4 linked regions of the Homo sapiens genome follow. The protein of the gene in region 1 interacts with the protein of each later gene in a biochemical or structural test. Each region holds a gene or a part of one and is shown in the gene's direction. Other genes may lie near its edges.

Evidence for each region.
Region 2: the proteins of UBE2E2 (region 1) and RC3H2 form a complex in vitro, tested with the Homo sapiens proteins (one study listed by BioGRID).
Region 3: the proteins of UBE2E2 (region 1) and RNF168 form a complex in vitro, tested with the Homo sapiens proteins (one study listed by BioGRID).
Region 4: of the proteins of UBE2E2 (region 1) and ASXL2, one has a biochemical effect on the other in vitro, tested with the Homo sapiens proteins (one study listed by BioGRID).

The regions. Positions count from the first base shown.
Region 1 is NC_000003.12:23,493,322-23,500,357, forward strand, and holds part of UBE2E2 (ubiquitin-conjugating enzyme E2 E2), read left to right. Parts: intron 1-6,286; coding exon 6,287-6,419; intron 6,420-7,036.
Region 2 is NC_000009.12:122,846,337-122,853,372, reverse strand, and holds part of RC3H2 (roquin-2), read left to right. Parts: intron 1-1,936; coding exon 1,937-2,050; intron 2,051-2,143; coding exon 2,144-2,292; intron 2,293-3,550; coding exon 3,551-3,746; 3' UTR 3,747-7,036. UniProt on the Homo sapiens protein: Post-transcriptional repressor of mRNAs containing a conserved stem loop motif, called constitutive decay element (CDE), which is often located in the 3'-UTR, as in HMGXB3, ICOS, IER3, NFKBID, NFKBIZ, PPP1R10, TNF and in many more mRNAs.
Region 3 is NC_000003.12:196,468,265-196,472,786, reverse strand, and holds the end of RNF168 (E3 ubiquitin-protein ligase RNF168), read left to right. Parts: intron 1-14; coding exon 15-968; 3' UTR 969-4,004; downstream 4,005-4,522. UniProt on the Homo sapiens protein: E3 ubiquitin-protein ligase required for accumulation of repair proteins to sites of DNA damage. Acts with UBE2N/UBC13 to amplify the RNF8-dependent histone ubiquitination.
Region 4 is NC_000002.12:25,742,452-25,749,487, reverse strand, and holds part of ASXL2 (putative Polycomb group protein ASXL2), read left to right. Parts: intron 1-5,011; coding exon 5,012-7,036.

The DNA.
Region 1 (7,036 bases):
GTAATATTTCAGCTGTACATAGGGGCTCATCCACTGTAGGCTGCAGCATGGGAAGCTGAACACAGTTTGATTCTGTTGCAGAATTTCTCCTGAAGCAGCAACCTTGGGCATTCAGCCAAATCGTAATTTGCTGATATTTTTCATTCTAAAAGATTTACCTCATTGTGTTTTTATTTTGAAATTTAACTATGAAAGCTTTAGGTTTTTTTTCTTATTTAAAAAATAAAATCTGAAAATAAAACAGTAAGGGAATTGATCATTTTCAGAATGTTGCAAGTGGGAAAACATTACTTAATAACCTAATACCTGAAAATCCTGTTGTTAAATAAACATTCTATTCATTGATAATTTGGATTTCCTAAGAGTGGCAGCAGTGGATATACATGATTTCTAAAGTTCTGCTATATCTAAATATACATCATAAGATTAGGTTACAGAATCATTATTTTTTTTTGATGTACACATCTTTGTAGCCTTGTTTTTCAGTCCTGAAACCATTCTTATAAATTTACAAAGCAGTCAACCTCTTTGAGTGTATTTTTGATCATCTGCAGCGTGTAACAGCAAGCACAACAGCAACTGACATTTGGAGGGTTACTATTTTCCAAGTTCTGTGAGTACAGTTCTACTAAAAATTTACAAGATTTGTGCTATAATGATCTCATTTTGCAGTCAAGGAAACTAAGACATAGAAAAATTACACATTTACCCAGGTCCTAACAGGCTTTAAATGCCAAGGCTAGGATTCAGACAACTTAGTCTGACTCCAGAGCCTGTTTATGTTCTTCATCATTGCTCTGTACTGCAAGTGTCCTCTGGCACCAAATTTTATTTGTTCAGCTTGAGAGATAAGTGATCATTAAAAGATTAAAAGATTTCTTTCTCACTTCTTGATTCATGATACAGAAATATGATGTGAGCCATGTATGTAATTTTAAATCTCCTGACAGCCAGACTAAAGGAAAAAAATAAGCAAAGCATATTTTCATACATCTTTACGCCAATACATTCCAAGTATTACCATTTCAACATGTAGTTGTTCATTAATAATTATTAAATTAATAGGTAAATAGTAATTATTAAAATTATTAATGAGCTATTTTACTTTCTTTTGCATTAAGTCTTCAAACTTAGGTATATATTTTACACATACAGCACATTTCAATTTGCCCTAGCCACATTTCAAGTGCTTAGTAGCCACATGGCTACCATATTATACAGCAAAGTTTTGGATGTTGGGTTCTCAACTGGTACATATCCAAATAGGAGTGGGGCAGAGGGCTGTGTAGTTCAAGAACCACTGCTGTAAGCTTTGGGATTTCAAGTGATACATTTCTAAAATGTTAGAAGAGTCCAGGTTGCTAAAACCCAATTTTTATATGAGGGAAGTAGTATTAGTTTTATATGCTTTTTTCTTTTTTTTTTGAGAGTCTCACTCTGCCACCCAGGCTGGAGTGCAGTGGCGCAGTCTTGGCTCACTGCAACCTCCACCTCCTGGGTTCAAGCAATTCTCCTGCCTCAGATAGTATCCCATCTTCTATCTCCTGGGATAGGAGTATTTCAGATACTCCTCCCGAGTAGCTGGGATTACAGGCGCCCACCACCACACCTGGCAAATTTTTGTATTTTTTTTAGTAAAGATGGGGTTTCACCAAGTTGGCCAGGCTGGTCTCAAACTCCTGGCCTCAAATGATCTGCCCGCCTCAGCCTCCCAAAGTGCTGTGATTACAGGCTAGTTTTATGTGCATTTTAAAATACCAGTCTGTTTTCAAGATAATTTGTTGCTACTGGCTAAGATTTCTTAAAGTGGCACACTTTGACAGCATAAACCAATTCAGAGTGATAATATTAGCTGTGTTATTTTAGTCCACTGTTAATAACTACATAGACAGCTGACTGACTTCAAAGAACCAATAAAACTTGGAGTTCTGACTGAGAGCCAAATAAAACTTGGAATGGGCAAAAATTGAGTTTATGTTATCTGCAGACATTGCCCTTCTTGGTGAGATACTGCTGTCTTCTGCTTCAGAGTCCCTTCCTCAGCCACACTATTTGGTAGTGACTCCTTATTTAGCCTATATCTTGTAATTTACTGTGGTTACCATTCTTGGGAGGCCATTTTAAGATTTCTTAAAGTGACCCAGAGAAATCGTAGCTTGGTATTTACTAAATGTGTTTGTGTATGTTATTTCATAGCTGTATACGCTCACCTGTGTGTACTTTTTAACTGAATTTATTCATCTACCTTGAAGTAATGTTGTAACTATAAACCTGTGATTTTCTCTACTTTTAAGCTCTTCCTTCTGATAAGCTTATCTATTCATATTGGGTTTAATTATAGCTCAGGGCATAACCATGTGTATTATTCATCTGAGTGAGTGAGCTTGTCTGGCAACAAGAGGCTGTTGTTGCCAAAGCTTTATTGTCATCTGGGCTGAATATACTCTGTCTATGCCTCATTGCCAGCCTCAGGAAAAGGAGGTAATGGGGTGATGGGGGAGGAATGCTGTACTCTAGTCCCTTACACCACTGCTTCTCAATATATTCCAACCCTTTGCAATAAGCTAGGATAACTGTGATTTTATTTACTTCATCCTTTTTTAAACAAGAGAAATCAAACACTAGAAATAAAATGTAACTCTCCTTCATTTCCTATCTCTACATCTGTTTCCTCCCATCTCCCCATTCCACCTCATCCCTTGTTGTTCTCATAACCACTATCATGAATTTAGGTTTATCTTTCCAGTTAATTTCTTAAAAGACTTTGACATAGATATGTATCCATAAATAATATAAAATATTCATACAGTAGGACCTGTAAATTCATACAGTAGGATCTTTTTTTTATTTATACAGTAGGATCACATTGTACATATGCAGCAAGTTGCTTTTCTCACCATATTGGTAGACCTTTGACATAATTTTTCTTAATATAAGAATTTGGTACCTATGTAATAACGTATCTAACACATGGTAGGTGAGAAAACCTAGTAATAAAACAGAAAGCACCTGAATCCACTGCACACACTGAGAAGTGAAACATACCCAGAACCATTGAAACTCCAGTGTGCTGCTTCTCCAACCTCTGCTCCTACCCAGGAAACCACTCTTCTGAACTTTTTTCTTACTGGTTTTCTTTTCTTACCTCATATTTATGTGTCCCTCAGTAGTATATGTCCCTGTTTGCTTGTTTTTAAGCTTTGTAGAAATAGTATCCTACTGTATAGATTCTTTTTAGTCTTAATTTTTTATTAAATGTATTTTTAAGATTCATTCATGTTAATCTGTATATTGTCACTGCTATATAGTATTCCTTTGGGTGGATTTACCCATTTTTCTGTCAGTAGCCATTTGTGTTGTTTCCAATTTTGCTATTATAAATAGTGCTTCAATAAACATTATTCTCAATGTCTTCTGGTGATACACACATGTAAAAGTTTCTCTGTAGTGTATACCTGGGAGTATAGTTGCTATGTTGTAAAATAGGTGTACAGTTGACCCTTGAACAACTCAGGGTTTAGAGGTACCAGCCCCCTGTGCCATCAAAAATTCATGTATAATGTTTGACTTTCTCCAAATTTAACTACTAATAATACCCTACTTTTGACAAGAAGCCTTACTCATAACATAAACATTTCAATTAATACATATTTTGCATGTTATATGTATATATGCTGTATTCTTACAATAAAGTAAGCTAGAAAAAAGAAAATATTAAGAAAGTCATAAGGAAGAGAAAATGCATTTACAGTATTGTACCGTGTTTATTGTTACCCTGAGTTTACATCATCTGTTTACAAGGTGAAATGGCAGCTAACCACAACTACAGACCTCAATCTACAGTGTATATCAAGTAATTCAACTTTTTCTTGTAATGGCATGACTTTTCTCTGCTTCTTGGGACTACTTCCAGAATCACTAGTGGCCCTTCGTATGGATCCCATGGTGTTATTTAAGGTTTACGGTATTGCACAAACACAATGAAAAATATGCGAGAACTGAGAGAGAGCACTTTTTATGGCAATACGCAATTTGCTGGAGAGATGAACTGCTCATGCAGAGATGATTTTTGTCACGTGGCATTTTAGGCATTTTAAGCAGCTATTGGCAATAGCTGAGTTCATTGCAATAGCAACAGGAGGTGGCTACAAAATTATTACAGTAGTACAGTATGTATTATAGTTACTTTTATGCAGTTATGATTTAATACTCTATGTTTGTGTTTGCTTACATTTCTTTTAAAATGCTCATGGCATCATGTATGGTTTGTGGGTATAATTTTAACTTTGTAAGAGATCGGTATATATTTTCTGGTAGTAAATAAGAAAAACTAATATCTGTGTATATTTTGTGCACTCATGACGTTCCTTTTTCTTAATTTTTCAATATTTCTAGGCTAGTGCGTTGTCAGCGAGTTTTTTCAAATTGTCACAAATCTCAAATTTTTCTAATGTATTTTCTTGAAATTTAGTTCATCTAAGTTGACCCACGCAATGCAGACCCTGTTGTTCAGGGGTCAACTGTATATTCAACTTAACTAGATGAGCCTATATTCTCATCCGAAGGAATTACTCATACTCATCAGCAGTACATAGGAGTTCTAGTTTTTCCACATCCTCATCAACATGTGGTTTTGTCAGGCATTGATTTTTGCATTTGCATTTTGTAAAATAATATTACTGAATTTTGATTTTCAGTTTCATTTCCCCGATTTTGATGATATTGAGCATTTTTCATATGATTATTGGCCATTTATGTTTCCCTTTTTTTGGAAATGTCTATGTCTTTTTTAATAGAGTCTTTTTTTAGTTGATTCTTAGGAACTTGTGTATTCTCAACACTAGTATTTGGTCACTTTTATATGATCCAAATATCTTTTCTGTTTGCAGCTTGCCTTGTCACTCTCTTCAGTCAAACTCTAATATTTTGACTTTTGCATTTAAATATTTAATCCATCTGCAACAGCATTTGTTTATTTACTGAGGGTAAAAATCCAGTTTCTCTGTTTTTCAAATATAAAAACTTTTCCTAGTCCCATCAGTTGACATAAATCAGGTTTTCATATATGTGTGGAAAAGTTTGAGGAATTTCTTTGAGCTTCCGAAAAAATTTTAAAATCAACTTGTCGAGTTTTGGTTTTAAAAAGCAGTTGGACTTTTTAATTGGAATTATGATGAATCAATTTGGAGAAACTGACATTTGATATCAGGTCTCCCTACCCATAAACTTGGTATCTCCCTCCATTTATTTAACTCTTATGAGTACTTTTCAATAAGTTTTATATAATTTTCTCCATAAAGATCTTACACATCTTTTATGACTTTATTCATAGCTTCCCTACAAGACCTATTGCAACTCATTTAAAAATACATTTTCTAGGGGCCAGGTGTGGTCCAGTGATGCATGCCTGTAAACCCAGCTACTTGAGAGGCTGAGACCCAAGAATGGCTTGAGCCCATTCTTAGGATTAGCTAAATCCTAATCTCATTTTGCCCTTCTTTTCACCTGAGAGAACTAATACAATTCACTCGACTCATGTGGGCCATATTGTTTTCAGCAAAATTCTCTGAAACTCAGAGACATGTGTACTGCTAGTAGCCATGTGGCTTCTTCACTTGCTTTGTTATTAATTCATCATCATCCAACATACTGACTTAAGAGGCACTAAGGACAAGGTACAACCTGTTCCTCAAGCACCTTCTAGGGAGGGTAGAAAGAAGCATTAGTTGCAAAACACAGTTATAAAACAAAATGATACATCTTATCCTCTACAGACCTCATTGGTCATGATGTATGGGTCAGGAAGTCCTTTGGGTGGGGAGAAAGAAAGGAAGATTCAGATGGGATATGATATTTGAGCAGAGACTTTGGATGATGAACATTGAACCTCCTTTGTGTTCTCAGTTGTTAGCAAAGGGATCAGACTAGTCATTCCCCAGAGGTCCTTCTAACTTTGAAATTTTGTCTCTGACATCACAAATAATTTCATGCTTTCATTAAACATTTGTGTTTCTACCTCTGGCCTGTAGTCCTTGGACTCTTGTTCCATAGGCGTAGGGTTGTGAATGGCAAAAGAGGATCTTGGTGTTCTTTTATGAAGTGATACCAACATATTTCACTTCTAGGATAATGACAATATTGGCAATATGAATCTTAACATGAGAGTTAACTGATTAACTTTTTGTGTTTTTATGGAATTGCTCAATTGGTTATCATAAATAGATTTTGTTAAATTCCAGCCTTTATGTAATTTCTAAGCACATTTCATTTGTATGTCTTATTTCAGTGCTGGACCCAAAGGAGACAACATTTATGAATGGAGGTCAACTATATTGGGACCCCCAGGATCTGTCTATGAAGGAGGGGTGTTCTTTCTTGACATTACCTTTTCACCAGACTATCCGTTTAAACCCCCTAAGGTCAGTATGAAGTTTTCATTGATTTTTAGCAATATGGATTATATTTCTAGATACATATACTTATTCTTAAATATGCATTCTAGGGATGCATGTCTATTCTGTTGTCACAGACAGCTTCCCAGGATTGATAGTGTATAAAATGAAACAATGTAAAAAATTGTAGGTTATTCCTCCACCCCAGCTTTTTACTGATTTCATTGTTTTTTTTCTCCTCCTTTTTCTCCTCATTATCTCCTTTCTTTGTTATATGTTTTAATGTAACATTAAAACACCATGTTTTATGGGTGAAAATGGGGGCATAAGGTTGGGCCAGGGTGAGTACCAGAGCCCAGAAAATCAGACGTAGCCTGGAGCCAGAGCCCAAGCAAGCTAAGCGCAAGAATCAGGCTAAAGGCAGAGGAAGCCTTGCCTAGGCAAGGTTTATAGCACCAGCTATGGAGGTTTGAGTTTTGGTGCCTCTAGAGTTCAGCTGCTCACATGTAGCACACATGGACTAGTATGGAAAGTATGACCCACAGAGACTTAAAAGTTGTGTTAAAAAATTTCGTAAAGTATTTATAATAGTTCATTAATGAAACTAATCAATGAAAAGTCATGTATGTTCATGTCTGATGTGG
Region 2 (7,036 bases), on another chromosome or scaffold:
CATTCTTGGGTGTTTCTCACAGAGGGGGATTTGGCAGGGTCATAGGACAATAGTGGAGGGAAGGTCAGCAGATAAACAAGTGAACAAAGGTCTCTGGTTTTCCTAGGCAGAGGACCCTGCGGCCTTCCGCAGCGTTTGTGTCCCTGGGTACTTGAGATTAGGGAGTGGTGATGACTCTTAATGAGCATGCTGCCTTCAAGCATCTGTTTAACAAAGCACATCTTGCACCGCCCTTAAGCCATTTAACTCTGAGTGGACACAGCACATGTTTCAGAGAGCACAGGGTTGGAGGTAAGGTCACAGATCAACAGGATCCCAAGGCAGAAGAATTTTTCTTAGTACAGAACAAAATGAAAAGTCTCCCATGTCTACTTCTTTCTACACAGACACGGCTACCATCCGATTTCTCAATCTTTTCCCCACCTTTCCCCCCTTTCTATTCCACAAAACCGCCATTGTCATCATGGCCCGTTCTCAATGAGCTGTTGGGCACACCTCCCAGACGGGGTGGTGGCTGGGCAGAGGGGCTCCTCACTTCCCAGTAGGGGCGGCCGGGCAGAGGCGCCCCTCACCTCCCGGATGGGGCGGCTGGCCAGGCGGGGGGCTGACCCCCCCACCTCCCTCCCGGACGGGGCGGCTGGCCGGGCAGAGGGGCTCCTCACTTCCCAGTAGGGGCGGCAGGGCAGAGGCGCCCCTCACCTCCCGGACAGGGCGGCTGGCCGGGTTGGGAGCTGACCCCTCCACCTCCCTCCCGGTCAGGGCGGCTGGCCGGGCCGGGGGCTGACCCCCACACCTCCCTCCCGGACGGGGCGGCTGGCCGGGCGGGGGGCTGACCCCCCCACCTCCCTCCCGGACGGGGCGGCTGGCTAGGCAGAGGGGCTCCTCACTTCCCAGTAGGGGCGGCCGGGCAGAGGCGCCCCTCACCTCCCGGACGGGGCGGCTGGCCAGGCGGGGGGCTGACCCCCCCACCTCCCTCCCGGACGGGGCGGCTGCCGGGCGGAGACGCTCCTCACTTCCCAGACGGGGTGGCTGCCAGGCAGAGAGGCTCCTCACTTCTCAGACGGGGCGGCTGCCGGGCGGAGAGGCTCCTCACTTCTCATACGGGGCGGCTGCCGGGCGGAGGGTCTCCTCACTTCTCAGACGGGGCGGCCGGGCAGAGACGCTCCTCACCTCCCAGACGGGGTGGCGGCCGGGCAGAGGCATTCCTCACATCCCAGACAGGGCGGCGGGGCAGAGGCGCTCCCCACATCCCAGACGACGGGCGGCCGGGCAGAGACGCTCCTCACTTCCTAGATGTGATGGCGGCCGGGAAGAGGCGCTCCTCACTTCCCAGATGGGATGGCGGCCGGGCAGAGACGGTCCTCACTTTCCAGACTGGGCAGCCAGGCAGAGGGGCTCCTCACATCCCAGACGATGGGCGGCCAGGCAGAGACGCTCCTCACTTCCCAGACGGGGTGGCGGCCGGGCAGAGGCTGCAATCTCGGCTTTTTGGGAGGCCAAGGCAGGCGGCTGGGAGGTGGAGGTTGTAGCGAGCCGAGATCACGCCACTGCACTCCAGCCTGGGCGCCATTGAGCACTGAGTGAACCAGACTCCGTCTGCAATCCCGGCACCTCGGGAGGCCGAGGCTGGCAGATCACTCGTGGTTAGGAGCTGGAGACCAGCCCGGCCATCACAGCGAAACCCCGTCTCCACCAAAAAAATACGAAAACCAGTCAGGCGTGGCGGCGCGCGCCTGCAATTGCAGGCACTCTGCAGGCTGAGGCAGGAGAATCAGGCAGGGAGGTTGCAGTGAGCCGAGATGGCAGCAGTATAGTCCAGCTTCGGCTCGGCATGAGAGGGAGACCATGGAAAGAGAGGGAGAGGGAGACCATGGGGAGAGGGAGACCATGGGGAGAGGGAGAGGGAGAGGGAGAGCAAAATCAGTATTTTTCTTAGTTACAGAGTGATTATACAGAAGATGCAACAGATACTAAACCTGATAGGGATATCGAGTTAGAGCTTTCAGCACTTGATACTGATGAACCTGATGGACAAAGTGAACCAATTGAAGTAAGTGCCACAATTAGATAATTGAGAGGCTTTGTTTGATTGAAAATTTATAAAATACTTTCATACTGAAGGATTAACATTTTATTTTCTTAGGAGATCTTGGACATACAGCTTGGTATCAGTTCTCAAAATGATCAGTTGCTAAATGGAATGGCAGTGGAAAATGGGCATCCAGTACAGCAGCACCAAAAGGAGCCACCAAAGCAGAAGAAACAGAGTTTAGGTGAAGACCATGTGATTCTGTGAGTGTTAGACAGAAAATTCATAAACAGTGGGCATAGGACATAATAAAGAGAAAAAAATGCGAAATTAATTTTTGGCTTTATGCTGTGAGGGGAAGACCTTATATGGGCAATGATTTGGTCAATCTGGATTTTTAGGGAAGAAAAAGTAAAATTGAACTAACAAAGCAGTCCATTTTGGTAGCCTGAAACTTGCTTTTTGTTGAGATAAAGTTAATCTGTGTTCCAGCATCAGGTTATGCTTCTTTAATCTGGTTGCCAAATTTCTAGACTACAAAATGGAGAATGACAACCTAGATTAATGGTTTCTCTTTTTGAAAATCATGTTAAGATTTTCTTGGCTAGGCTGGGCGTAGTGGCTCATGGCTGTAATCCCAGCACTTTGGAAGGCTGAGGCGGGTGGATCACAAGGAGTTCAAGAGCAGCCTGGCCAACATAGTGAAACCCTGTCTCTACAAAAATACAAAAAAATTAGCTGGGCATAGTGGCGGGCACCTGTATTCTCAGCTGCCTGGGAGGCTGAGGCAGGAGAATCGCTTGAACCCGGGAGGCGGAGACAGTGAGCCAAGATCGTGACACTGCACTCCAGCCTGGGCGACAGACTGAGACTCCATCTCAAAATTATCTATCTATCTATCTATCTATAGATAGATAGCATATAATATAGTATATTTTCTTGGCTATAATACTGCCATTTTGAATAATTACTGCCAAAAATATGGGCTTAATCTTCAACTTGGTAGTTTGGCCTTAAACTAACTAGTATTTTAATTTTTATCATAACTTTTGGAAAACAGGACTTTTCAAGCCAGGAGTGGTGGCTCACACCTGTAATCCCAGCACTTTGGGAGGCCGAGGCGGGTGGATCATTTGAGGTCAGGAGTTCTAGACCAGCCTGGCCAACATGGTGAAACCCCATCTCTACTAAAAATACAAAATAGCTGGGCGTGGTGGCACATGCCTGTAATCCCAGCTACTTGGGAGGCTGAGGCAGGAGAATTGCTTGAATCCAGGAGGCAGAGGTTGCATTGAGCCGAGATCATGCCACTGCACTCCAGCCTGGGCGACGGAGGGAGACTCTGTCTCAAAAATAGGAAAACAGGACTTTTCTAGTTACTTCTGATACTTCTAGTGATAAAGACATGTCTTTGCTAGAGACTCCTAAAGTTTGCTGTAGCTTTCATTAAATATGTATAGTCACCCTTAACAGTTTGCACTTAAAGCTAATTTGTTTTTAATGTCATTTCTTTTTTCTCAGGGAGGAGCAAAAAACAATTCTGCCGGTAACTTCTTGCTTTAGCCAGCCACTCCCAGTGTCTATTAGCAATGCAAGTTGCCTCCCCATCACCACATCTGTCAGTGCTGGCAACCTCATTCTGAAAACTCATGTTATGTCTGAAGATAAAAACGACTTTTTAAAACCTGTTGCAAATGGGAAGATGGTTAACAGCTGAAAGGAGGTTCATCTTTCAAATTTGTGACCACACCATGGAAGCATTTACACTAGCTTTTTATATATATAATATATATTATATAATGTATATTTTTTTTAAAAAAAAGATATTACTGGGGGCATCCATTTCCTGTGGACTCTTTGATACTTCAAGCCCTCTTGCATTAGCATTATGAAAAAAAAAAAGAAAATTTACTTTACTAGGGTAACATGTTCACTTTCCAGAAATGATTGGAATTTGGACAACATTTAACTTAAGCTTCAAGCAGCTTTTTATGAGTTTGTAGCAATCCGGTGCAGTAACTGAGCCATTTCCTATTTTAAATGGCTTCTATAGAAAATTAACAACTCAGTTATTAAACTAGCAGGATCCTACAATGATACATCTAGTGAAAGTAGACTTAGTTAACTTATTTATTTCTATTTTATGTTTCACTGAGAGAAGTTTCCATCTCATTCCAGCTGCTTTATTTATCTTTTTCATGGAACTTTGCATGGATTTCTTTTTCTTTTTTTAATTTTGAAGAGTGGAGTTAGATGTTCTTACCATAGAATTTTACAGGGTTATATACTAGCATTCTTTACTGCATTATATGTAGGAGTGTGGTGCAGTGCTTTTATCTGTAGCATATAATTTTTTTTTAATTTTCCATTTTTCAAGAGTAGTTTCTGCTTTGTTAATATTTATACACAGGCTACTTGTTGAAGTAATTAATTAAAAATATAACCAAGTGCCTAAGTCTTTCAGCTGATGTACTAGATATTAAATTCTCCTAAGTTATGCAGAATCGTTTTTACAATTTTGATAAATTATGCACTAATGTAATGGCAGTTTTTTAAAATGCAGATTTAAGCCTGTACATTATTGAATCTGATGACTTGGCAAAAGAATCAGGTGCTTTCAGCTTTCTTGAGAAAACCCTGTATGTAGCGTTTGCACTGACTAACAAGATGGTATTGCTGGGTTTTTAATTTAAACTAATTAATTTGGTTGTTCATTGCATTATCTTGGTTAAATATTGTTTATTGTTACTTCATGTTGGGGTTTAGTTTTTCTTGTTTTTTGACTGTTAGGTTGATAAGACTATGAACTGTGTAATAGTAGAACAGTGGCTAACATTTATTCATACTTAAGAACATGAATAATTTCTGCCTTGCTAAAATGTGACTGAAATGGTTTTGACTTGGCATCTGAAAGTATACAATGTGTTCAACAAGTCATGCATCAGATTTGTGGGAGGTATTGTACTGAAACCTAAATTTCAGTCAACATTTGAAAAGAAGAGCTGGGCATTCCTTCCTGGTGATCTTTACCTATAGTTTATCTATCTGTTTTTCTTCTGTTTCTTTAAGATTAGTTTGACTTTTATTATTATTTTTTTAATTAACTTCTGTGAAGTTGTTTACTCTGAAAATTGTACTGGAATATTTTAAGCCAAGCTGATCTTTCACCAGGTGTACTGTATGTAAGGGCTTTTCCTGCTAGCAAGATGCTTAAACAGGATCATGTTATTGGTCGTCTGAGCTATTTAGTTGTTTTACAAAACCACAGCATTGTATCAGATAAGATTTTGATAAAAAGTTTTGTGCACATTTCCAGGGGCGGGAGGGTTGACATTTCCCTGAAATTTCTTGATTAGAATGAGTAAATACTGGTGTTTGATACCTGTCTTAATGAACATGCTCATAAGGTGACTGATAAGTTGTAAATATACCTGAGAAACAAAGGGGTAGTTTTGATATTCTGGTGTCAGTATGGAAGATCTTACACATTTATTTAATACTCAAATGTATGAAGATGTTTGTTTGTAGCATAACAACAGCACAGTAGCCTTGACTTAGTTTCCTTTGGTTAGTACTGTACCTTTTTTGCCATGGCCAGTGCTCCCCATCCCTATGAAGACATTTTATTTATTTCACTCTGTAACCTGAAATGAATAGGAACAAGGGTTTTAAACCATGTTACATTAACTTTTCTGACATTATAAATTAGCCTAGAATATTACAGGAACATGATTGTTATATAATTTATATCAGAACCTTTCTATAAATATGTGCTTATTACATTTGAAATGCTTCCAATGTACTTTATTTGCTGTTTGTAATTCCAAAAAGGATATGCAAACCAGTCTGTCTATTTCATGGATATTTAATAGTGAGATCTTCCATGTTGAAGGTAATGTATTTTTTTTTAAGATTTTAAAATTGCTATTTTGTTACAAAATAGAGACCTATTAACAGTTTGAGAGCTCCTTATGTGCCCTCAGGGAAAGAACCCTCTGTGCAACAGAACTACACAAAACATCTTCAGCACGTTCTGAGGGTGAATATATACTACATAAATTGATCTTGTGTATTTAACCTTATCTTTTTAATTTTAAAATTGAAATTTTGAAACTTGGTTGTGCTCTGCTGGAGGGGGTTGGGATAAACTGCTTAGATGTTTGCCTACTTGTCCAGTGAAATTACATTTGCATCAGTATATGTATATACCTGCCAACCTTATTGGTATGTCTCAGAACATTTATATTAAAATAATGCTTGTCTTGCAGCAGGTGATCCCATAAAACAATAACTCCCTGTTCTTAAAAACTTACTCTCTTTTTCACTAACAACATAGGAATTGTTTCTGTGTTGAGATTATTCTGTGTTGCATCCATTCTCTATGTAGTGGTCACCTTCTGTCTGTCATGGTGGGCTTAATGTGAAGTAAAGCCATTGGTTCTCTGCCACTTTCGAAGAAAGGGCAGTTCATCTGATCCTTCTTCAGAATGGTACCTACTGATATCATCGAGGAAAATGTTACAAATCAGACCTAGGATATGACTTTTTAAAATTGAGGCATTTCCCGTCATTTGGCCTTTTTACCAACAAGATGTGATGTACAAATTTGGAATCAAAGGATACAAAGCAACAAGAGAGGAAATGTGTAATGTGGGTAACCAAACTGCATATGTTACCTATTGTCTAATCAGAAAAAATAGTCTGAGGTCTGGAAAGCAGGAAAGTGGTGGTTATTTTCTTTCATTTTTTGTGTTTTTGTTTTTTAATTTCTAAGTTCCATTCTGAAATCCATGTGCCGCATTCAGTTACTGTGGTTGTAGCATCAGTTTTTTTGTGGTTTCATTTCATTTTATGAATTCAGAGGAAGTTACATATATATTTTTTCTAGTTGGTACCTGAACAAAGCAGATTCCCTTGCCTTTGCTGCCACGTCTTATTTTCAATGCCATGTGATAAACCAGTGTCATACATGAAAGTTGTGCATTGTAATTTTCAAAAAAAAGGGAG
Region 3 (4,522 bases), about 170 Mb from region 1:
TCTGTTTTCTACAGGACATTGACAGTAGTGATAGGAAAAGCCCAACAGGGCAAGACACAGAAATAGAAGATATGCCGACACTTTCTCCACAGATATCCCTTGGAGTTGGAGAACAAGGTGCAGATTCTTCAATAGAGTCCCCTATGCCATGGTTATGTGCCTGTGGTGCCGAATGGTACCATGAAGGAAACGTCAAAACAAGACCAAGCAATCATGGGAAAGAGTTATGTGTCTTAAGTCACGAGCGACCTAAAACCAGAGTTCCCTACTCGAAAGAAACTGCAGTTATGCCTTGTGGCAGAACAGAAAGTGGGTGCGCCCCCACATCAGGGGTGACACAGACAAATGGAAACAACACAGGTGAGACAGAAAATGAAGAGTCGTGCCTACTGATCAGTAAGGAGATTTCCAAAAGAAAAAACCAAGAATCTTCCTTTGAAGCAGTCAAGGATCCATGCTTTTCTGCAAAAAGAAGAAAAGTGTCCCCCGAATCTTCCCCAGATCAAGAGGAAACAGAAATAAACTTTACCCAAAAACTGATAGATTTGGAGCATCTACTGTTTGAGAGACATAAACAAGAAGAACAGGACAGGTTATTGGCATTACAACTTCAGAAGGAGGTGGATAAAGAGCAAATGGTGCCAAACCGGCAAAAAGGATCCCCAGATGAGTATCACTTACGCGCTACATCCTCCCCTCCAGACAAAGTGCTAAATGGACAGAGGAAGAATCCCAAAGATGGGAACTTCAAAAGGCAAACTCACACAAAGCATCCAACACCAGAGAGAGGCTCAAGGGACAAAAATAGGCAAGTGTCTTTAAAGATGCAGTTGAAGCAGTCAGTTAATAGAAGAAAGATGCCAAATTCTACTAGAGATCACTGTAAGGTATCCAAAAGTGCTCACTCCCTACAGCCTAGCATTTCACAGAAAAGTGTTTTTCAGATGTTTCAGAGATGCACAAAGTAAGGCCTGGTAAAGGGAGTGCTTTGTGATCTAGTAAAGCTGGAATGTGAAGCTCTTTCCTATCATGGAATCTTCATCCATGTGTCATTCATGCTGCTCTCTAGGCACACTCATTGTCCTTAATGAAGGTCTGTGTGATTGTAAGGACTGCATAGACACATGAGCTTCTGCACAGCTCAGCGGTAAGCAGGGGTCCCCTGTCGTTTCCCTTCTTAATAACAGATGTGTATTAAGCTTTACAATTCTTAGAGATATCTTAAGCTTTGGCCAACTCCAGGAAATCTTCAAGTGCCATTGTCTTTCCAAAAACTGCATGTTTTATGGCCTTTGCTCACCTTTTTGTCGTGACTGGTAATCAAAGCAAGATTATACTATTCTGAGTGATTAAGGAACCCATGCAGGGTTTAAAATCCATTTTCTTGCTATTGTCCAATGTTTACAGAGTACTCAAAAGGTTTTCCTAAAGTAATCTAATTTCCATCTCCAATTTAATTCAATTTTCAGCATTGTAGCATTTCCTTTGGTGTTTGTTTTTTTTTTTTAGACGGAGTTTCAAAATTTGGATTCATATTCATATGTGGGAAATCCCAGATTTTTTTTTTTTTTTTTTTTTTTTTTTTTTTTTGGAGACAGAGTCTTGCTCTGTCACGCAGGCTGGTGTGCAATGGCGCGATCTCAGCTCACTGCAACCTCCGCCTCCCGAGTTCAAGCGATTCTTCTGCCTCAGCCTCCCGAGTAGCTGGGATCATAGGCATGTGCCACTACACCCAGCTACCCAGCTAATTTTTTTTTTTTTTTGTACTTTTAGTAGAGATGGGATTTCACCATGTTGGCCAGGCTGGTCTTGAACTCCTGTCCTCAGGTGATCCACCTGCTTCGGCCTCCCAGAGTGCTGGGATTATAGGCGTGAGCCACCACGCCCGGCCTGTTTCCTTTGGTTTAAAGTGGATTCGAATCAGTGTTAAATCAGAAAATCAGGGTTTTCTAGGAAATTGGGAATTAGTTGCCAGAAAGGAAACTGAACTATGCAGAAGGAGTTAAGAGCTGGGATGAGGCTGGATGGGGTGACTGACAGTCCAGATCATTGAAACAGATTGGGTCGTCGGAAACTGGTCCAGATGAGGCTGGATGGGGTGACTGACAGTCTGGATCATTGAAACTGATTAGGTCGTCAGAAACGGGTCCAGACGAGGATGAGGCTGAGGCTGGATGGGGTGACTGACAGTCTGGATCATTGAAACTGATTGGGTGGTTGGTCAGAAACGGGTCCAGATGAGGATGAGGCTGAGGCTGGATGGGGTGACTGACAGTCTGGATCATTGAAACTGATTGGGTGGTTGGTCAGAAACGGGTCCAGATGAGGATGAGGCTGGATGGGGTGACTGACAGTCTGGATCATTGAAACTGATTGGGTCGTCAGAAACTGGTCCAGATGAGGCTGGGTGGGGTGACTGACAGTTTGGATCATTGAAACTGATTGGGTGGTCAGAAACTGGTCCAGATGAGGATGTGGCTGGATGGGGTGACTGACAGTCTGGATCATTGAAACTGATTGGGTGGTCAGAAACTGGTCCAGATGAGGATGTGGCTGGATGGGGTGACTGACAGTCTGGATCATTGAAACTGATTGGGTGGTGAGAAATGGGTCCAGATGAGGATGAGGCTGGATGGGGTGACTGACAGTCTGGATCATTGAAACTGATTGGGTGGTGAGAAATGGGTCCAGATGAGGATGAGGCTGGATGGGGTGACTGACAGTCTGGATCATTGAAACTGGTCCACTATGACGCAGCAGGGGCAGTTTGGCAGAGCATCCTCTTCCCTTGTCCTTGTGAAAGAACACAGGAAACATTTGGGTTTTACAGCTTTTCACACCCTACTATCAGGCATCAGAATCAAAATTAGTTACTAAATTGGGTGAATTTTTGGAAACCTGCATTTCTATGCATCTGCTATTCCAGAAAAAAATGGGAATGTATTACAGGAGAGTTACCTCACAGTGTCTTATGTTGTGGAACCTGAAACATAACCACGTGTTTTCTTATATGATCATTTGTGTTGATACTGCTTTTATTTGAGTTTATGAACAGAAATAGAAAGTATGGTGCTTGGGTTTTGCCCTTTCTTACTCCTGAAAGTTAAATCAGAAGACACTGATTTCATTTTGTGAAATTTAGCTCAGAGACTATTGATCTTTTGTTTCATTAATATGAACAACTATTAGTAAAAAATAGCTTTAACAGCATTTCTGCTGATATCTAGTAATCTATTCTTTTAATGTGAAAATAAGATAAAATGTCCTGGAGCTAATTCTAGCTTAAATTTGCCAGTATTTCTGTATGTCATTAAGTTTTTTTCCTCTAAGGTTGGTAATAGAATTTTGTTAATCTTTGCATACCTGATGGCATCTATGTCAATGCTGATTGGGTAATTATAAATTCTGTGCTAATTTAAAACTTAATTTGCCTCTTAAGGTGATTGTCCTCTGAGTAATGATTGTAGTTAAATGAAGTATAGCTTGCAACTATACTATCACATGGGTCGTTAAGTAAAAATAAATAAACCAAATTTGTCTGAGACAGGCTAAGATCAATCTTCTCATCAAACCAATTTTTCTCTAAGAGCAATTTCACTTTCAGTTTTAGGGTGGACATTCTTGAATGCCTCAAATTAAACGTTATCTATTTAATCTTCCTGGAATAGTCTGTGACCAAAAAGGAGGGTGTGATATATTTAGGTGTAAATATATCACATATATGGTGTGATATATTTGGGATTTATATATTCAGCTCATTCTCTGTGAAGAAGTCTTCCTGACTAAAATTGGTTTCAAGATAAACTAATTTCTGTTAGTATTTCTACTCTGCCTACCATGTATGCCTTTTTGTTAGAAACTAATAAATGTATCAGTCACTAGCAGGTACTGGTCCTTTTTCCTCTCATTTTTGTGGAAAGGATATGCAAACACTGAATTTCTCAGGGAGTACTAAGGCTGTGCAGAGGCTGAGAATCTGAAAAATAAAATACTAAAAATAAAAATGGATTATTATGTGTATTTTACCACAACTTAAAAATATGTAAAAATCAGCTACATGAAAATTAAAAGTTCTGCATAACAAAAACTACCATCAAGGGAAATTGGAAGCTGTGGCAAACTTGGGAAGAAATAGTTGCAGTTCATCACAAAGAGCTAATTTCCTTTATGTAAAGTATCCTCCAGTTCATTAAGAAAAGACCAATAACTCGGCCGTGCATGGTGGCTCACACCTGTAATCCCAGCACTTTGGGAGGCCGAGGCAGGCAGATCACCTGAAGTCAGGAGTTTGAAACCAGCCTGGCCAACATGGGGAAACGCCGTCTCTACTAAAAATACAAAAATTAGCCGGGTGTGGTGGCGTGTGCCTGTAATCCCAACTATTCGGGAGGCTGAGACAGAGAATTGCTTGAACCCAGGAGGCGGAAGTTGCAGTGAGCCAAGATTGTGCCACTGCACTCCAGCCTGGGTGACAGACTGGAGACTCCGTCTCAAAAAAAAAAAAAAAAGAAAAAAAAGAAAA
Region 4 (7,036 bases), on another chromosome or scaffold:
TGCATAAGGAAGGTACCTGGGCATCTAATGTAAACCACCCCTGTGCTCACTACTTGAGCTCAGAGGCACCTGATCTCAGACTCTTAGACCAAATATAATTTAAATGGACTTCCAAAAACTTAGTTATAATTCTCAGCCTCTGTAGAACATTGACAGCCAACTGTCCTACTGTCTCCTCAGGACCTCTTAGATTTTTTGGGCCAGGGTTCACGCAGATATTGCAGAGAAGAGTTGATCACAATCCCAGGGTGGAAGAGTCTTGGGCTTCCTTCGGTTCCCCTACAGGTAGTCTGTAATGCATGCTTCCAGACCATCATGAAAATTATTGACAAAATAAGAAATGTGAGACTAAGCATGAGGAGACTATTGGTGTAATCAAAGGATCCTATCTTTGTACCAAGAGCCATGGTATTTGAGTTTACCCTTTTCTTGCTACCATAACTGACTTGATGTTCTGTGAATCAGGAACTACCTTTAGCTCCCTCCTATTAAAGGAAATATGTGTAGCTGTCTTCTGTCACTACTGGTTACTTGAGGGACACTAGTAACATGGAATAGTCTTGGTAAGCTCTGCTGCTTAGCATGTGATTAACTTCCAGTTAGCCTTGTATTGCTGCATGTCAAATCTTTCAAATTCTTCTAGGTAGTATCTTTGACTGTCTTAATATACAATGCCTTTTAAAACCCAAACACATTTTTACTTCTGATCTTAAAGGTTTATTAATACTTGGGCTTGTGCTTAATATCAGCTTGCAGTTCATTCATTTAATAAATAGTGTTTATTTTTCTTACCAAGGAATTTAAGAGGCAACGCACTGAATATTACTCATTAGGATATAAATGGAAAAATAAGACTAGTAAAAGTACTTTTTCCCCCTTTTTATTTAACTGAGGTGAACCAAAATTAGTTCTGTCAGGAAGTATTCCTTGGAAAGATTCACTTACCAGAACTTGACCCATTCTCATTGTATTTTTTTTTTTTTTAACGGAGTCTCGTTCTGTTGTCCAGGCTGGAGTGCAGTGGCACAATCTTGGCTCACTGCAGTCTCCACCTCCCAGGTTCAAGCGATTCTCCTGCCTCAGCCTCCTGAGTAGCTGGGATTACAGGCATGCACCACCATACCTGGCTAATTTTTGTAATTTTATTTTTTAGTAGAGATGGGGTTTCACCATGTTGGCCAGGCTGGTCCCAAACTCCTGACCTCAAGTCATCTGCCCTCCTCTGCCTCCCAAAGTGCTGGGATTACAGGCGTGGGCCACCGTCTGTACTTCCTATTACTTTTTTATTCATTGCTTGTTTTTTGCCCCCCAAGATGGAGTCTTGCACTGTCGTCCAGGCTGGAATGCAGTGATGCAATCTTGGCTCACTGCAGCCTCCACCTCCCGGATTCAAGGGATTCTCCTGTCTCAGCCTCCCAAGTAGCTAGGATTATAGGCATTAAGCCACGACGCCTGGCTAATTTTTGTATGTTTACAAATAATTATTTGTAAAGGGGTCTCACCGTGTTGGCCAGGCTGGTCTTGAACTCCTGACTTCAAGATCCACCTGCCTCGGCCTCCCAAAGTGCTAGGGTTATAGGTGTGAGCCACCACGCCTGGCCAATTCATTGCTCTTTAAAATTGGTGATTTTAGCACTTACGAATCTATGGGGGTTTTTTCTTATTTTTTTTTCTACCATTAACATGCATCGCCAGAGATTCTGATTTTTATTATAATCACTTTTACTATTCTTTCTTATAAAAATATTAGAAACTTTTCTTCAATGTCATTCACAGCTTATCTCCAGACCTGAGAGCTGAGTAACTGTTTAGGTTTTGCTATAAATGTTGCTAAGACCCATCATTTCTATTTTCTCACCTGTAAACAGGCTGGGTTACATCATATTCTGTCTGCTTTCTGCTAGTCCAAAGGGATTACACAGAAACTTTAATCCACTGTGACCAAGTTAATATAATTTTACTTTTTTCAGTTCTTTTCCTTTCTTCTCCCTCATCTCCCTCAAAAAAGACTTCTCCAGAAGTGTCTTTAGTAACTCTCTTCTCTTAGACCCTATCTCAAATACTGCTTTCTTAGACAAAGTTTAATGTAATTTATAACAGAACAAAACCTTTTAAACAAAATTTAAGTAGAAAACAAAATTCACAATGTAGTAGTAGAAAACAAAATTCACAATGTAGTATAAATGTTATAACTTAGTTACAACTTTTATATATATACAAATGTATATAAAAACTATATATACACACATGCACATTATATGTTTTACATTCCCTATACAGTCAGCCCTCTGTATCAGCAAGTTCCACATCCTCAAGGTTAATGCAGTATTTTCAACCAACCACCTATCGCAATATTTGGAAAAGAAAATTAAATACAAATGTAAAAATACAGTATAACAATTTATATAGCATTTACATTATGTTAGGTGTTATAAATAATCTAGAGATGACTTAAAATATATGGGAAGATATGTGGAGGTTATCTGCAAATACTACGCCATTTTATATAAAGGACTTGAGCATCCTCAGATTTTGATATCCTCTGGGGTCCTAGAACCAATCCCCCATGGATACCAAGGGATGACTGTACACTTAAAAAGAAAAGGATTGAATCTCTCTGCTCTCCCGGGGTAGGGCTTCTCAGTAAATTAAATTGTTATCAATGCCTGGACAGCTTTGGTTTTGTACTTAAAAAGAAATATGATTTATTTTGCATAATCAGGTAATAGGGCTATTTACGTAAGTAACTGAAACTTATTTTTAGGTATCGAAACCTTTCATTTTAACCACTTATAATGGTTGTTCTTATTTGATTTCAACATGTTATTAATGATTGTGTTATTATGATAGATATGATGTATTATGTTAGGTATAGAGTTACTCTCACGAGTATTCTTATGTAAAGTTGTTTGTCCCTATATAAATTCCCCTAAACACCTTTCTTGTATTTACTTTTTTAGTTTTATCTTTTTTTTTTTTTTCATTTTTTCCCCTGCAGTTTCTTTCATATGATATAAATAAGGGACAATAACTGCTTCTTTCTTACTGTAGGCAGCCTCTAAAATGCTATGTGATGAGTAAATATACTATCTAGGCTTGTTCGAATTGGATGTGAAATAGATTTAGCTCTTAGAGAGATTAAATAGGTTTCCTGATGTAAAATATATACTCTGTGACACCTGTTATGAAGTCCCATGGCTCTAACTTCGGAATTAGAGAATCAGTTTTTGAGGACTACTGACCTTTTGAGAAATGAGTATTGCAAATAATGAAAAATGTTTAGTGACTTTATTATTCTTAATTTAAAAACATTAAGAAAAATGGCATGCATTTTCTTAGGGTTTAGTGGGTTAATTTTTTTTTAATTAAATGCTTTAGAACATCTTAACAGTTATTTGCTCCTTTAAACTCAACCAGTTACTAGAAGAGTCCACATCTTGTTGAATTATTAGTAACTCTAATAGCTTTCAAAGTATTGTTCAGGACAGAAGGCAGATTTGTTTCAGACATGATGATTTTATGGTATGAAAATCATTGGTTTCAGCCAGGCGTGGTGGCTCACGCCTGTAATCCCAGCACTTTGGGAGGCCGAGGTGGGTGGATCACTTGAAGTCAGGAGTTCGAGACCATCCTGGCCAACATGGTGAAACCCCATCTTTACTAAAAATACAAAAAAATTAGCTGGGTGTGGTGGCAGGCACCTGTAATCCCAGCTACTCGGGAGGCTGAGCCACAAGAATCACTTGAACCCAGGAGGCAGAGGTTACAGTGAGCTGAGATTCTGCCACTGCACTCCAGCCTGGGTGACAGAGTGAGACTGTCTCAAAAAAAAAAAAAAAAAAAAAAGAAGGAAATCAATGGTTTCAAACCTGATAGACATCAGAATCTCACAAGTAGCTTTTTAGAAACTTTTTTTTTTTTTTTTTTTGAGCTGGAGGCTCCCTCTGGAGTCACTGTGTTGGCCAGGCTTTTTCAGGCTGGGTGCTGTGGCTCATGCCTGTAATCCCAGCACTTTGGGAGGCCGAGGCAGGTATATCACAAGAGGTCAGGAGTTCAAGACTAGCCTAGCCAACATGGTGAAACCCCATCTCTACTAAAAATACAAAAGTTAGCCAGACGTGGTGACCCACACCTGTAATCCCAGCTACTCGGGTGGCAGACGCACAAGAATCACTTGAACCCAGGAGACTGAGGTTGCAGTGAGCCGAGATCACACCACTACACTCCAGCCTGGGAGACAGAGCAAGACCCTATCTAAAAAAAAAAAAAAAGACTTCCTAGGGTCTTGGGGGTTCTGATTTGTAATTTTTTGGGATAGGACCCAGAGCATATATATTTTAAAATTGCGCAAGTAAATATAATACCAGCCAGAGATGAGAATGGCTGGCAAACATTATGTACATACTCCTTTATGTGTATGGGCATGGTGGGGGCTCCTATAGATCACACATTGTCTTCCTTCCAGTGCTGTCTAGAAGCCTGTGTAATTTGAGATAATCCAGCCCAAGTGTGTGTGTGTGTGTGTGTGTGTGTGTGTGTGTGTGTGTGTGTGGAACAGAGAAGAGCAAGTATTTTCCCCTGGACCTTGGTAGTAAAGCTAAGAACTAAAAGACAGTAGTGGTATGGGTGGCTGGCTTGCTTGCTTTTCTCTTCTTTCTCAAACATAAATACACTTTTTAAAAATGCAAATACCATAGAAAACTTTGTATCATAATAAGCACTTGTAATAGTGGCATTAGGAGGGAGTTGAGATAGGAAAAGAGGTGTGGGGATTTGGGGTGAGAGTGGAAGCAGTCGTCTTTGGCACCAATAGAAAAAGTGGATGCAAGGACCCTAGAGACAAACTAGTATTGCTGTCTCCAAGGTTTGGCCTCTCGGCCATAGACCACCCATGTTTGTCACAGGTACTGTAGTGTTCATCTGTTTTTAAAATGTGAGGGCTAATGAAGTTTTGTTATTCTTACAAATGAAAACTAAGCTCTGTTGTTTTTTTCCCCTCTACTTCTTTCAGATCCCGGTCTCCAGAATCTCCCCCATGCCGTTTCATCCATCGCAGGTCTCTCCCAGGGCTCGTTTTCCAGTCTCCATCACTAGTCCTAACAGAACAGGAGCCAGAACTCTTGCAGACATCAAAGCAAAAGCCCAACTGGTCAAAGCACAGAGGGCAGCAGCTGCCGCTGCCGCCGCAGCTGCTGCAGCCGCCTCAGTTGGAGGGACCATTCCAGGACCTGGCCCAGGGGGTGGACAAGGTCCAGGAGAGGGTGGTGAAGGGCAGACTGCTAGAGGAGGCAGTCCAGGCTCAGACAGAGTCAGTGAAACTGGAAAGGGCCCCACACTGGAACTGGCAGGAACTGGAAGCAGGGGAGGTACGAGAGAGCTTTTACCCTGTGGTCCAGAGACTCAGCCCCAGTCTGAGACCAAGACCACCCCAAGCCAGGCACAGCCTCATAGTGTCTCTGGAGCACAACTACAGCAAACCCCCCCAGTGCCTCCAACACCTGCCGTCAGTGGAGCATGCACAAGTGTCCCATCACCAGCCCACATAGAGAAATTGGATAATGAAAAACTGAACCCCACCAGAGCAACAGCCACAGTGGCCTCTGTCAGCCATCCACAAGGGCCCAGTAGTTGCAGACAGGAGAAAGCACCTTCTCCAACAGGTCCTGCTCTAATCTCAGGTGCCTCACCTGTTCATTGTGCAGCTGATGGCACAGTTGAGCTCAAAGCAGGTCCTAGTAAGAATATACCTAACCCTTCAGCCTCATCAAAGACAGATGCTAGTGTGCCAGTGGCTGTAACTCCCTCCCCTTTAACATCTTTATTGACCACAGCCACTTTAGAAAAGCTTCCTGTACCCCAGGTCAGTGCAACTACAGCACCTGCTGGATCAGCTCCACCCTCGAGCACTTTGCCAGCAGCTTCTAGCCTTAAAACCCCAGGAACTTCTTTAAACATGAATGGACCCACTTTAAGACCAACCTCTAGTATCCCTGCTAATAATCCTTTAGTGACTCAGCTGCTTCAAGGCAAAGATGTTCCCATGGAGCAAATTCTGCCTAAACCTCTCACCAAAGTTGAAATGAAAACGGTTCCACTGACTGCAAAAGAGGAAAGGGGGATGGGAGCGCTCATAGCTACCAACACAACAGAAAATAGCACCAGAGAGGAAGTTAATGAGAGACAGTCCCATCCAGCTACGCAGCAGCAGCTGGGCAAAACCTTGCAAAGTAAGCAGCTCCCCCAGGTTCCAAGGCCCCTTCAGCTCTTTTCAGCTAAGGAGCTGAGGGACTCCAGCATTGACACACACCAATACCACGAAGGACTAAGTAAAGCAACCCAAGATCAGATCCTTCAGACTCTCATTCAGAGGGTTCGGAGGCAGAATCTTCTCTCAGTTGTGCCGCCCTCACAGTTCAACTTCGCTCACTCAGGTTTCCAGCTGGAAGACATCTCCACAAGCCAGAGGTTCATGCTGGGTTTTGCTGGCAGAAGGACATCCAAACCTGCAATGGCAGGGCACTACTTACTGAATATTTCTACCTACGGCCGGGGCTCAGAGAGCTTTAGGAGGACCCATTCTGTAAACCCTGAAGATCGTTTTTGTCTAAGCAGCCCCACTGAAGCCTTGAAAATGGGATATACAGACTGTAAAAATGCAACAGGAGAGAGTAGCAGCAGCAAAGAAGATGACACTGATGAGGAAAGTACTGGTGATGAGCAGGAATCTGTCACAGTGAAAGAGGAGCCCCAGGTTTCCCAGAGTGCTGGCAAGGGTGACACAAGTTCAGGACCTCACAGCAGGGAAACTCTATCTACCAGTGATTGCTTAGCTAGCAAGAATGTGAAGGCTGAGATACCATTGAATGAGCAAACCACTTTAAGTAAGGAGAATTACCTGTTCACTAGAGGCCAAACATTTGATGAAAAGACCCTAGCCAGAGATTTAATTCAGGCAGCACAGAAGCAGATGGCTCATGCAGTGAGAGGTAAGGCAATCCGTAGCAGCCCCGAGCTTTTCAGTTCTACTGTTCTTCCT